Linked DNA regions of Homo sapiens. The protein of the gene in region 2 interacts with the protein of the main gene of each other region in a biochemical or structural test. Each region holds a gene or a part of one and is shown on either strand. Other genes may lie near its edges.

Region 1 (3,500 bases), on a different chromosome or scaffold from region 2:
GGCTGTGTGGCAGTCGATGACCGGGGAGTAGCCGGCGCTAATCTGCCCCGGGTGGTTCAGGATGATGACCTGCGAGCGGAGCCACAGGCGGCCATCAGGCACATCGGCGGTGGGCACCGGGAGGGCGCCAGAGCGGGGCTGGGAGGCCCAGTCACCGGCGCCCCTGCACGGGCTCCTGGGCCCGGAGTGCTGACTGGAGGGGGCTCAGGCTCTGAGGACCCAGCCCCCAGACCTGAACCTCAACATCCTCATTAAGCAAAAGATAAACAACTGAGATTCATTGTTTCGAAGGGGCAGGGGCAGCACTTACACGGCCAACCCCAGCTGGAACTAAGGCGGGGGGGTGACAAAACTGGACCTCAATTCCTGTGTTTCAGTTGTATCTCAATAAAGCCACTTTTAAAAATCATATGAAGAGGCCAGGCACGGTGGCTCACACCTGTCATCCCAGTACTTTGGGAGGCTGACGCACGTGGATCACTTGAGGTCAGGAGTTCGAGACCGGCCTGGCCAACATGGTGAAACCCCGTATCTACTAATAATACAAAAATTAGCCAGGCGTGGTGGCACATGCCTGTAATCTTACCTACTTGGGAGGCTGAGGCAGGAGAATCACTTGAACCCGGGAGGCGGAGGTTGCAGTGAGCCGAGATCGCACCACTGCACTCCAGCCTGGGCAACAGAGCGAGACTCCGTCTCAAAAAAAAAATAAATAAATCATATGAAGAGGCCAGCAAAGAGGGGCAATGAAGACTGTAGAGAATAAAAGTATGACAGAGATGTCTCAGACAGTAAGTTAACAAAAGCGTTTTTCTAGGACGAATGTAGGACCTCAAAGGCTGGGCATCCCAGCAGTGCAGCGTGGAAGACAGACCCGCGATTGCACACAGGCTGGGAGCCACAGGGCCTGCACCCCTCCCAGAACTGATTGATCCCCTCGTTGAGTGCTCGGTGGCCCCCTCGGTGGTATGCGGGTCCCTTTTCTTTTTTTTTTTTTCTTTTGAGACGAAGTCTCGCTCTGTCACGCAGGCTGGAGTGCAGTGGCGCAATCTCGGCTCACTGCAACCTCCGCCTCCCAGGTTCAAGCGATTCTCCTGCCTCAGCTTCCTGATAGCTGGGACTACAGGCACGTGCCACCACGCCTGGCTAATTTTTGTATTTTTAGTAGAGACGGGGTTTCACCATGTTGACCAGGATGGACTTGATCTCTTGACCTCGTGATCTGCCCGCCTCGGCCTCTCAAAGTGCTGGGATTACAGGCGTGAACCACTGCGCCCAGCCTGAGGGTCTGGTTTTCTCCCCACGCCAGGCCACCTGCCGACAGCAGCCTCACCCAGGACAGTCCTGCTGCTGTCCAGCAGGCGCCAGCCCCCTGGACCCAGCGCAGCCCCCCACCTGGGAGGTGAACTGAGCAGCCTCCTGCGGCGGGTCAGACTTGCTGTCCCCACACACGTTGCCCCGCCGGATGTCCTTCACCGACACGTTCTTCACATTGAAGCCGACGTTGTCGCCGGGCAGAGCTTCGCTCAGAGCCTCGTGGTGCATCTCCACTGACTTCACCTCAGTGGTGATGTTCACTGGCGCAAAGGTCACCACCATGCCCGGCCGCAGGATGCCGGTCTCCACCCGGCCCACGGGCACCGTGCCAATGCCTGCAGAGGGGAGGGGGTGTGAGGGGAAGGTGGGGCCCGAGGGGATGCTGGGGCAGGATATTCGGGGACAGAGCCTGGAAACCAACAAAGCCTGGGACTGGATCCCCCCGACAGGCCTGGGGGTTGGGGCCACATGGGCGGAGTGCAGGGGAAGGGAGGCCAGGGACAAGGGCAGACACAGAGATTCCAAGGGAAGTGGGGGCTCTCCCACCCAGCTGGGGAAATAAGAGGCTGAGCAGCAGAGCTCCCAGGAACCCACGGAAAAGCCACAGGGACAGAGAAGCGGGAGGATGGGCAGAGAGGGGCTGTCTGAACCTGGGGTCCCATCCTTGCCCCCGGAGAGCACTTTCCCTCAAAGGAGGCACTATGGGACCCCTCCTTTGTCTGAGGACTCCTCCCTGTGAGTGTGGGCGGGGCGACTGACTGCTTCTGCCTGGGGCCTGGTGGCCCTGCTCCCTGCTCCCTGCAGGCCCTGCTCCCTGCTCCCTGCAGGCTCTCTGGGCCCCACTTGGATGCTGCAGGTCTCTATCACTAAAGGGGCCTCTCAGCCAGATGCAGCACAGGCACAGCGGCACATGAGCGTCCCTGGCATTTCTCATGGATCTACTTAAACCAATTGTGCAGCTGCCACATGGGGGTCTTGTCCCCCCCCAGGCTACTGGGTCTCCACCCTCACCTCCCAGGGCTGTGAGGGAGGCCTGTTGTAGCCTCCAGCCAACTTCACTGAGGCCAGTGGCTGTGCTCTGTGCTGGGGTGAGCATGATGCCCCCACAGTGCACACAGAGATGCCTGCAACATCTTTGGCTGCAGCCCACTGGCTGGGGGTCTCCTATCAGTGCCCTTCTCTAGGGTCTCAGATTTGTTTATGGTTTCTCTTCTTGGTGGGATGGATGGATGGATGGACGGATGGATGGGGAGGTGGGTGGATGGATGGATGGATGTATGAATGGGGTGGTAGATGGATGGGGAGGTGGATGGACAGAAGGATGGGTGGGGAGATGGATGAGTAGGGAGATGGATGGATGGATTGGTGGATGGATGGATGGATGGATGGATGAGGAGGTAGATGAGTGGATGGACAGAAGGATGGATGGGTAGGAAGGTGGGTGGATGAATGGATGGATGGGGAGGTGGATGGATAGATGGATGGATGGATGGATGGATGGATGGATGGATGGGGGGATAGATGGATGGATGGATGGATGGACGGACGGATGGGGAGGTGGATGGATGGATGGATGGATGGATGGATGGATGGATGGATGGATGAGGAGATGAACGGATGGATGAGATGGATGGATGGATGATGGAGGGAAGGATGGCTGGGTGGGGAGATGGATGGATAGAGAGGTGGATGGGTGGATGGGGAGATGGATGGATGGATGGATGGATGGGGAAGTGGATGGATGGGGAGGTGGATGGATGGATGTATGGGTGGGTAGGTGGGTGGATAGATGGATGGATGGATGGATGGATAAATGGATGGATGGAAGGATGGATGGATAGGTAGGTGGGTGGATGGATGGATGGATGGATGTACAGAAGGATGGATGGGTGGGTAGGTGGGTGAGTGGATGAATGGATGGATGGATAGATAGAAGGATGGATGGGTGGGTCAATAGATGGATGGATAGAGAGAAGGATGGATGGGTGGGTAGATGGATGGATGGATGGATGGATGGATAGAGAGAAGGATGGATGGTTGAGACAATGGATGGATGGATGGATGGATGGAGAGATGGATGGATGGATGGATGGACAGAAGGATGGATGGGTGGGGAGGTGGATGGATGGATGGAAGGATGGATGGATGGATAGAGAGAAGGATGGATGGGTGGGACAATGGAT
Region 2 (3,942 bases):
CCAACTGGGGGTATATACCCCAACACTAGGCTCCCCACCAGCCATATGCCTTCTCATCTGGGCACTTACTACTAAAGACCTGGCGGAGGCTTTTCCCATCAGCGTGCATTCACCAGCCCATCGCCACAAACTCTATCGGAGAACATGAATCAAAAGTGCCTCAAGAGGAATGAAAAAAGCTTTACTGGGGCTGGGGAAGGAAGCCGGGGAAGAGATCCAAAGACTCTTGGGAGGGAGTTACTGAAGTCTTACTACAGAAATGAGGAGGATGCTAAAAATGTCACGAATATGGACATATCATCTGTGGACTGACCTTGTAAAAGACAGTGTATGTAGAAGCATGAAGTCTTAAGGACAAAGTGCCAAAGAAAGTGGTCTTAAGAAATGTATAAACTTTAGAGTAGAGTTTGGAATCCCACTAATGCAAACTGGGATGAAACTAAAGCAATAGAAACAACACAGTTTTGACCTAACATACCGTTTATAATGCCATTTTAAGGAAAACTACCTGTATTTAAAAATAGAAACATATCAAAAACAAGAGAAAAGACACGAGAGAGACTGTGGCCCATCAACAGACGTTGATATGCAACTGCATGGCATGTGCTGTTTTGGTTGAAATCAAATACATTCCGTTTGATGGACAGCTGTCAGCTTTCTCAAACTGTGAAGATGACCCAAAGTTTCCAACTCCTTTACAGTATTACCGGGACTATGAACTAAAAGGTGGGACTGAGGATGTGTATAGAGTGAGCGTGTGATTGTAGACAGAGGGGTGAAGAAGGAGGAGGAAGAGGCAGAGAAGGAGGAGACCAGGGCTGGGAAAGAAACTTCTCAAGCAATGAAGACTGGACTCAGGACATTTGGGGACTGTGTACAATGAGTTATGGAGACTCGAGGGTTCATGCAGTCAGTGTTATACCAAACCCAGTGTTAGGAGAAAGGACACAGCGTAATGGAGAAAGGGGAAGTAGTAGAATTCAGAAACAAAAATGCGCATCTCTTTCTTTGTTTGTCAAATGAAAATTTTAACTGGAATTGTCTGATATTTAAGAGAAACATTCAGGACCTCATCATTATGTGGGGGCTTTGTTCTCCACAGGGTCAGGTAAGAGATGGCCTTCTTGGCTGCCACAATCAGAAATCACGCAGGCATTTTGGGTAGGCGGCCTCCAGTTTTCCTTTGAGTCGCGAACGCTGTGCGTTTGTCAGAATGAAGTATACAAGTCAATGTTTTTCCCCCTTTTTATATAATAATTATATAACTTATGCATTTATACACTACGAGTTGATCTCGGCCAGCCAAAGACACACGACAAAAGAGACAATCGATATAATGTGGCCTTGAATTTTAACTCTGTATGCTTAATGTTTACAATATGAAGTTATTAGTTCTTAGAATGCAGAATGTATGTAATAAAATAAGCTTGGCCTAGCATGGCAAATCAGATTTATACAGGAGTCTGCATTTGCACTTTTTTTAGTGACTAAAGTTGCTTAATGAAAACATGTGCTGAATGTTGTGGATTTTGTGTTATAATTTACTTTGTCCAGGAACTTGTGCAAGGGAGAGCCAAGGAAATAGGATGTTTGGCACCCAAATGGCGTCAGCCTCTCCAGGTCCTTCTTGCCTCCCCTCCTGTCTTTTATTTCTAGCCCCTTTTGGAACAGAAGGACCCCGGGTTTCACATTGGAGCCTCCATATTTATGCCTGGAATGGAAAGAGGCCTATGAAGCTGGGGTTGTCATTGAGAAATTCTAGTTCAGCACCTGGTCACAAATCACCCTTAATTCCTGCTATGATTAAAATACATTTGTTGAACAGTGAACAAGCTACCACTCGTAAGGCAAACTGTATTATTACTGGCAAATAAAGCGTCATGGATAGCTGCAATTTCTCACTTTACAGAAACAAGGGATAACGTCTAGATTTGCTGCGGGGTTTCTCTTTCAGGAGCTCTCACTAGGTAGACAGCTTTAGTCCTGCTACATCAGAGTTACCTGGGCACTGTGGCTTGGGATTCACTAGCCCTGAGCCTGATGTTGCTGGCTATCCCTTGAAGACAATGTTTATTTCCATAATCTAGAGTCAGTTTCCCTGGGCATCTTTTCTTTGAATCACAAATGCTGCCAACCTTGGTCCAGGTGAAGGCAACTCAAAAGGTGAAAATACAAGGTGACCGTGCGAAGGCGCTAGCCGAAACATCTTAGCTGAATAGGTTTCTGAACTGGCCCTTTTCATAGCTGTTTCAGGGCCTGTTTTTTTCACGTTGCAGTCCTTTTGCTATGATTATGTGAAGTTGCCAAACCTCTGTGCTGTGGATGTTTTGGCAGTGGGCTTTGAAGTCGGCAGGACACGATTACCAATGCTCCTGACACCCCGTGTCATTTGGATTAGACGGAGCCCAACCATCCATCATTTTGCAGCAGCCTGGGAAGGCCCACAAAGTGCCCGTATCTCCTTAGGGAAAATAAATAAATACAATCATGAAAGCTGGCAGTTAGGCTGACCCAAACTGTGCTAATGGAAAAGATCAGTCATTTTTATTTTGGAATGCAAAGTCAAGACACACCTACATTCTTCATAGAAATACACATTTACTTGGATAATCACTCAGTTCTCTCTTCAAGACTGTCTCATGAGCAAGATCATAAAAACAAGACATGATTATCATATTCAATTTTAACAGATGTTTTCCATTAGATCCCTCAACCCTCCACCCCCAGTCCAGGTTATTAGCAAGTCTTATGAGCAACTGGGATAATTTTGGATAACATGATAATACTGAGTTCCTTCAAATACATAATTCTTAAATTGTTTCAAAATGGCATTAACTCTCTGTTACTGTTGTAATCTAATTCCAAAGCCCCCTCCAGGTCATATTCATAATTGCATGAACCTTTTCTCTCTGTTTGTCCCTGTCTCTTGGCTTGCCCTGATGTATACTCAGACTCCTGTACAATCTTACTCCTGCTGGCAAGAGATTTGTCTTCTTTTCTTGTCTTCAATTGGCTTTCGGGCCTTGTATGTGGTAAAATCACCAAATCACAGTCAAGACTGTGTTTTTGTTCCTAGTTTGATGCCCTTATGTCCCGGAGGGGTTCACAAAGTGCTTTGTCAGGACTGCTGCAGTTAGAAGGCTCACTGCTTCTCCTAAGCCTTCTGCACAGATGTGGCACCTGCAACCCAGGAGCAGGAGCCGGAGGAGCTGCCCTCTGACAGCAGGTGCAGCAGAGATGGCTACAGCTCAGGAGCTGGGAAGGTGATGGGGCACAGGGAAAGCACAGATGTTCTGCAGCGCCCCAAAGTGACCCATTGCCTGGAGAAAGAGAAGAAAATATTTTTTAAAAAGCTAGTTTATTTAGCTTCTCATTAATTCATTCAAATAAAGTCGTGAGGTGACTAATTAGAGAATAAAAATTACTTTGGACTACTCAAAAATACACCAAATTCTGTGCCTTCTTTTTATCTTTTAACCTTGGTTTAAAGAAATCTTGTTGACTCACACCTGTAATCCCAACACTTTGAAGGACAGAGGCGGGTGGATCGCTTGAGCCCGGGACCAGCCTGGGCAACATGAGAGTACCCAGTCTCTACAAAAAAATAAATAAATACAAAAAGCCGGGCATGGTGGTGCACAACTGCAGTCCCAGGAGTTCAAGGCTGCAGTGAGCTGTGATCACGCCACTAGCCTGGGTGACAGAGTGACACCCTGATTCAAAAATAAAATAAATTTTTGACAAAGCAGCCCAGATTAATGCTATATAGAAACAACTAGATAAACTTTTCTAACTTGTAATTTTAAACTCATTTTACTGAGTAAAACATCATTATCTTCTCACAAAAAAATGTTAAACTATTATTCTGTTGGAGAAAGTCATAATATTACCTGATTATAATTAGTGCTAGAATATGTGAATTACAAACTTCTGCAGGAAGCA
Region 3 (2,663 bases), on a different chromosome or scaffold from region 2:
TCTTGAGCTGCAAGCCTGTTATGTGTATCGTTAGGTGCTTTGGTTAGGTGTTTTTTAACTTCAGAAGTTTAACGTCATTTCAAAGGCCTCCTTCTCATAATGGAGTATTTCCTCCATATGCACATCCTGAGCAAAGGTAACCCCAATTAAAGTAGTAGCTCAGAGTTTTAAAAGTTTTAAAGTGGCATACAACAGTAGAATTGGGGCTCATCAATTATCAATTCTTTCACCCTTCAAATAATTCTTTTCTTTATTCAATGCCTGTAGCTATTGCATTAATGACCACAGCGGTCATCTCTACCTGCGACCATGGTATAGTAGCCAAGATCAAGAGAGTGATCATGGAGAGAGACACTTACCCTCGGAAGTGGGGTTTAGGTCCAAAGGTAAGTGGTACTGGGTTGCGTGCCCTGCCAGGTTCTTTTTTTTTTTTTTTTTTTTTTAAATTTATTTTTTTATTGATAATTCTTGGGTGTTTCTCACAGAGGGGGATTTGGCAGGGTCATGGGACAATAGTGGAGGGAAGGTCAGCAGATAAACAAGTGAACAAAGGTCTCTGGTTTTCCTAGGCAGAGGACCCTGCGGCCTTCCGCAGTGTCTGTGTCCCTGATTACTTGAGATTAGGGAGTGGTGATGACTCTTAAGGAGCATGCTGCCTTCAAGCATCTGTTTAACAAAGCACATCTTGCACCGCCCTTAATCCATTTAACCCTGAGTGGACACAGCACATGTTTCAGAGAGCACAGGGTTGGGGGTAAGGTCACAGATCAACAGGATCCCAAGGCAGAAGAGTTTTTCTTAGTGCAGAACAAAATGAAAAGTCTCCCATGTCTACTTCTCTCCACACAGACACGGCAACCATCCGATTTCTCAATCTTTTCCCCACCTTTCCCGCCTTTCTATTCCACAAAACCGCCATTGCCATCCTGGCCCGTTCTCAATGAGCTGTTGGGCACACCTCCCAGACGGGGTGGCGGCCGGGCAGAGGGGCTCCTCACTTCCCAGTAGGGGCGGCCGGGCAGAGGCGCCCCTCACCTCCCGGACGGGGCGGCTGGCCGGGCGGGGGGGCTGACCCCCCCCCACCTCCCTCCCGGATGGGGCGGCTCCTGCCAGGTTCTTTTGTTTGGCATTGTTGAATACTTGGGCAGCTCTTGGTGTGTTTCACCACCACAGCCTTGTATTGTGCTGGGCTCTGGGTTGTCGATGAGTGGAAACAGGCCCTGTCTTGGGCCTTAGAGATTTCAGTCTAATGAGGGGAAACAGTTGGGCATTACTCACGTAATCACACAGTGGAATGGCGAATTTCATGCACGTTAGTGGCTACCAAGGAGTGCAGAGAGGTGTCTGTCACCTGGAGTGTCCACAGTGGTCAAGGAGTCTGGTCAAGGGATTGTCTGTTAAGCCACACCGGTGTGAAGAGTGGGTTAGGTGTTGGTGAAGTGAAGAGGGGAGGGGAGAGTTCAGGGCATTGGGAGCAAGCAGCATGTGCAAAGGCAAAAAAGTAGAGTGGCTGCGGTGGGGACGTTATGTCTGCAGAGGCTCTCACTAATAAGCTTTGTGATCTTCAACAAGTCCTGTGTGTGTTGGAGTTAGTGGGCAAATTCTGAATGCTCTGGAGAGGAGTTTGAGGCCCTGCTGAGAATACACCAGGGAGGAACCTTGTTCTATTCTTTGTAGTCACCATGCCCGCTTCCAGCATTGACACCATTCTAATGTTGACACCTTGATGTTCCACCAGGCAAGTCAGAAGAAGCTGATGATCAAGCAGGGCCTTCTGGACAAGCATGGGAAGCCCACAGACAGCACACCTGCCACCTGGAAGCAGGAGTATGTTGACTACAGGTGAGGGCAGGATGTTTCAGAGCCGGGGTGGGTAGAGACGGCACACTTGCTGCCTTGATGCAGGAGTATGTCAACAACAGGTGAGGATGGGAAGGTAGAGCCCACTTGCCATCTGGACGCAGGAGTACATGGACAACAGGTGAGGAACAGGTGAGCATGGAGGTTGTAGAGCCCAGGGGAGGGGGAGTCACTTGGTTTGGGGCAAACTTGCTAAATGCAGGACCACAGGAACCAGCTCTTCAGCTCCCGTGAGATTTTGGCTGCCCAGGCCAGTTAGGGGTGTGGGCCTGCACGGCAGACAGTTATCCCTTTCTAGTCTGGCTCGTGGGACTCTAGAGGGAGTCAGTCTGCAACAGTAAGTGGTGAGTTCTTCTGTCCAGCGTCAGTATTTTGATGGTGGCTTTAGACTTGCCAGATAACACTACATAACATCAGTACTGCCCTGGAAAGCCATTCAGTGAATTTGACCTATTGCTACCTCTTTTTCAGTGAGTCTGCCAAAAAAGAGGTGGTTGCTGAAGTGGTAAAAGCCCCGCAGGTAGTTGCCGAAGCAGCAAAAACTGCGAAGGTGAGTGGCATGCTGTCCTCAGTTTGGAATGTGCTTAGGGAGATAATCCTAAGAGGCACTGGCATTCGTCTTACTTTGTGACTGTCCGCAGTCCAGCCATATACGCTAGCATCAGAGGTGCAGCGCATACACAGGTAATGCTGCCTCATACCCTGGGGTGCTTGTTTGGGCTCTGCAGGCTCCTCTGATTTGTATTCTCTGTCCTATCTGCTGGGAGGAGGAATGTGGGCTCAGGAATCAGATGGGCCTCGAC
Region 4 (3,500 bases), on a different chromosome or scaffold from region 2:
CAGATTTGGGGTGGGGAGGCATCTCTACCAGGCAATTAATTCCCCTCTGAGCCTTTGAAATTAACATTTTTGTTTCTGTGGATTCAAGGAGCCTAAAGAACACAGTTCATTAGCATTCCTAAGAAACACCTAGGTAAGCTCCAACAAAAGATGTTAAAGCAATCAGTATTTTTAGGGACTTCAGATCTCCTGTATTTGTTGTTGTAAATGATGATGTTGGGAAAAGAATTTAACAGATCCCTGGGTATTCTGACGTTTTCCTATATTTTAAGAACGAAACCGACCCAGCCAGCTTGTGGTCCCATTATTCTTTATATTGTTTTTCTTAGCACACGCTAGCAAAGATAGATGCCTAGGACTTTTCTTGGCTATTGGAGTTTATAGAAAAAAAGTTCTTTGTTGAAGGTTAGTCCTCCACCAGAATAATACACCCTTTTTCCCCTTAGTAGAAGTCCAAATGTTAATCTTGCTATCATATATGTATGAATGCCCAGATTTATAAAGCTTTGTAGGTATATTACTGATTGTGCAGGAGACTAATCTAGGAGGCTTCAGGATCATTGTCATTTGTGGATCTCATTGGCTAAGACCTTTTACTTAACCTGACTCCAGTAAGGTAGCCCCTTTGTTTCCTTGTAGTTGACTATGTGAGCTCTTGCCAAGCAGCAGAAGTGGGATGAAGGGAACTAATTTTGAAAACTTATTAGGCACCACATTTTTATGTGCATTAAATCTGAATTGAATAAAGATAATATAGATTGCATAGGCTTATGGGGAGAACCAGAGACCAGGAAAGGAAACGTTTTTTTCTTTTTACCCTTTATGCCTTTTCATGTCCCCTTTTTGATAACATGCTGCCTTGGTCCAGATTCTGGAAACCCCACTCAGGCTGTAATTGGTAAGCTTCTAGTACAGATGTCAGAACCTGCCCTTGATTATCTGCTGTTAGAGATAGCTTGGACCCTTTGTATGTGGAATGTTAGGTCTAGGGGAAGAGTGGGGGTGTGAGGAGACAGCTGTGGTAAAATAGAAAATTGGTGTAGGATTCCGAAAAATCGAGATAAGTCCCTGTTCTTCCTATGAAACATGATCTGACCACTGAACCTTGTTTTCTTATCCATAAGCAAGGATAATATTTATGTTTCACAAACTGTTGAGAATTAGATAAGTATATGAAGGTGCCTCTCTGTCCTCATTGTAAAATGTAAACTTTGATGAGACAGCCTCTATTCTCAACTGGATCTTTATTTTGAATGTTAGGTTTGAAATAGTGATTGATGTTGGGGAGTCTGTCTTTCATTGGTATTCCCTGTTAAAGTTTTAAATCTTCTTGACATTTACACAGTGAATTGTAACATGTAACTAGTGTTGTTGAGTCTTTACCTAATTGAATCAGCAGAGCCTACACTGATGTCTTCCAGTTACAAAGCGGTCACTGTAAAGTAAAAGGTGTCTTCATATCTAGGTTTGGGCTGAGAAGGATCCAATTGTATATCTAGTTCCTACTTTTCTTTTTTTTTTTTTTTTGAGATGGAGTCTCACTCTGTTACCCAGGCTGGAGTGCAGTGGCGCAATCTCGGCTCACTGCAAGCTCCGCCTCCCAGGTTCACGCCATTCTCCTGCCTTAGCCTCCTAAGTTGCTGGGACTACAGGCGCCCGCCACCACGCCTGGCTAATTTTTTGTATTTTTAGTAGATACAGGGTTTCACCGTGTTAGCCAGGATGGTCTCGATCTCCTGACCTCGTGATCCACCAGCCTCGGCCTCCCAAAGTGCTGGGATTACATGCATGAGCCACCGCGCCAAGCCTAATTCCTACTTTTCTAAGAATGTTTACAGCAAAGTGGTCATTGCCAAAGGAACTTGTAGCAGTACAGAAGATGGGCTCAGAAATGAAAGAAGTCTATTGATGTGACTAATTTCTCAACCATTTAATAGAATTATGGATTTTCTATTAAAAATAACTTGACCCTTTTCGATGCATTTAATAAAATGCCAAGTTCATTATTTGTTAATTTTTTAAAACCACAAAATTCAATATGTCTTGTGTCAGCATATTTTTTCAAAGGCCACTATTTTACTTCTCCCCCAAAACGTTTTTAAATTAAACAGAGAACTCTCAAAGCACCTGAGAATTACTTCAGTTTTTCATTTATTCAAATAGTTGCTTAAAGTGACCAACTTGGTTTTCTTTGAAATAGTAATTCTTGGGAATAAGAATACCTTAAATAATATAATAAAGCTTATGTGTGAGAATTTAGTACCAAATGCCGTGTTAACAGTTATGCGTGAGTATAGGCATTTGGGAGATTCCATGAAAAAATTTGATAAAGTCAGTAGAAATTTCAGTAATGGCTCATAAGTCTAGCTAATGCTGAATATTGAATTGCCTTGAATTTGTTTTTTTGGAAGTGTTACTTAAAGGAAATAAACAAAAGTCATTTAAGGATGTGTTCACTAGTGTTCATTAGGTTTAAGCCAAATGGATCTTAGTAGAGATCTTACGCCATTCAGCAAAAGGATTATCACAGAAGCATCACAACAGGCGCAGACTTAAATTCAATTAAAAGTAGGCAGGAGGACATAATTTTGTTGTATAGAAATTATGGAATAGGGCCTAATTTTAAAGAGTCTTCAAAGATAAACATATCAGGAAAAATATAGCTCATAAAATATGGGGAAAAAAATCTGGGAAGATGAGTATTTGTTAATGCTCTGTAGCTCCATTGCCCTCAGTATACAAGGAATGTGCCCACAATAGGGTTGGATTTAAAAGTCTTCAAAGCTTTGGTCTCTTTTTCTTTCGTTTTCCTCTGATACAGAATGCGAATAGTCTCCCGGCCTCCAACCCCCTCTACATCCCCACCACCCCATAATAGAGACTTAAAGGGAATTTAAATTCGAGTTCTTGAGCTTCTGCTCAATGGCTAGGTCTTTGAACAAGTTAATATCAGAGCCTTAGTTCTTCACCTATAAAGTAGGTTTAATACTTACCTTACAACATTGAGGATTAAAGAGCATGAGAGGATTACTTTATGAAAGGTGAAGCTTAGAACAGAATTTTTAGTTCCTTGCCAATGCTAAAAAACAACAACAACAACACCTTTTTCAGAAATTGCTTTATTAGGCTTTTGTACAAAGGGAACATCTTTACTTTCTTTAAATTTGCACATATATCTATTGTGAAATTTTAACCAAGCTGGAGGGGTCACTAGGGAGCATTGAGTATGATACTATTGCTGTAAATCATAGAAAGGCTGGCTCAGGAGGGTACTGACTTGCTTTGACTTTGCGGCAACTTCAGTTGTCCAGTGACAAGGCTTGCTGCATACACACCACTTTGTTTGTTTCTCATACCTTAAATTGTGGATTAAAAATCTTTGGGGCAGGCCTGGAGGCTCATGCCTATAATCCCAGCACTTTGGGAGGCCGAGATGGGCAGATCACTTGAGCCCAGGAGTTCAAGATCAGCCTGGGCAACATGGGAAAAACCTGTCTCAA

The links.
Region 1: the proteins of ERG (region 2) and EEF1A2 form a complex in vitro, tested with the Homo sapiens proteins (one large-scale study listed by BioGRID).
Region 3: the proteins of ERG (region 2) and DKC1 form a complex in vitro, tested with the Homo sapiens proteins (one large-scale study listed by BioGRID).
Region 4: the proteins of ERG (region 2) and TOP1 form a complex in vitro, tested with the Homo sapiens proteins (one large-scale study listed by BioGRID).

The regions. Positions count from the first base shown.
Region 1 is NC_000020.11:63,489,084-63,492,583, forward strand, and holds part of EEF1A2 (elongation factor 1-alpha 2), read right to left. Parts: intron 1,653-3,500; coding exon 1,396-1,652; intron 70-1,395; coding exon 1-69. UniProt on the Homo sapiens protein: Translation elongation factor that catalyzes the GTP-dependent binding of aminoacyl-tRNA (aa-tRNA) to the A-site of ribosomes during the elongation phase of protein synthesis.
Region 2 is NC_000021.9:38,379,536-38,383,477, reverse strand, and holds the end of ERG (transcriptional regulator ERG), read left to right. Parts: coding exon 1-75; 3' UTR 76-3,442; downstream 3,443-3,942. UniProt on the Homo sapiens protein: Transcriptional regulator. May participate in transcriptional regulation through the recruitment of SETDB1 histone methyltransferase and subsequent modification of local chromatin structure.
Region 3 is NC_000023.11:154,772,864-154,775,526, forward strand, and holds part of DKC1 (H/ACA ribonucleoprotein complex subunit DKC1), read left to right. Parts: intron 1-267; coding exon 268-386; intron 387-1,738; coding exon 1,739-1,842; coding exon of another isoform or gene 1,843-1,846; exon of another isoform or gene 1,847-2,331; coding exon 2,332-2,410; intron 2,411-2,663.
Region 4 is NC_000020.11:41,035,322-41,038,821, forward strand, and holds part of TOP1 (DNA topoisomerase 1), read left to right. Parts: intron 1-3,500. UniProt on the Homo sapiens protein: Releases the supercoiling and torsional tension of DNA introduced during the DNA replication and transcription by transiently cleaving and rejoining one strand of the DNA duplex.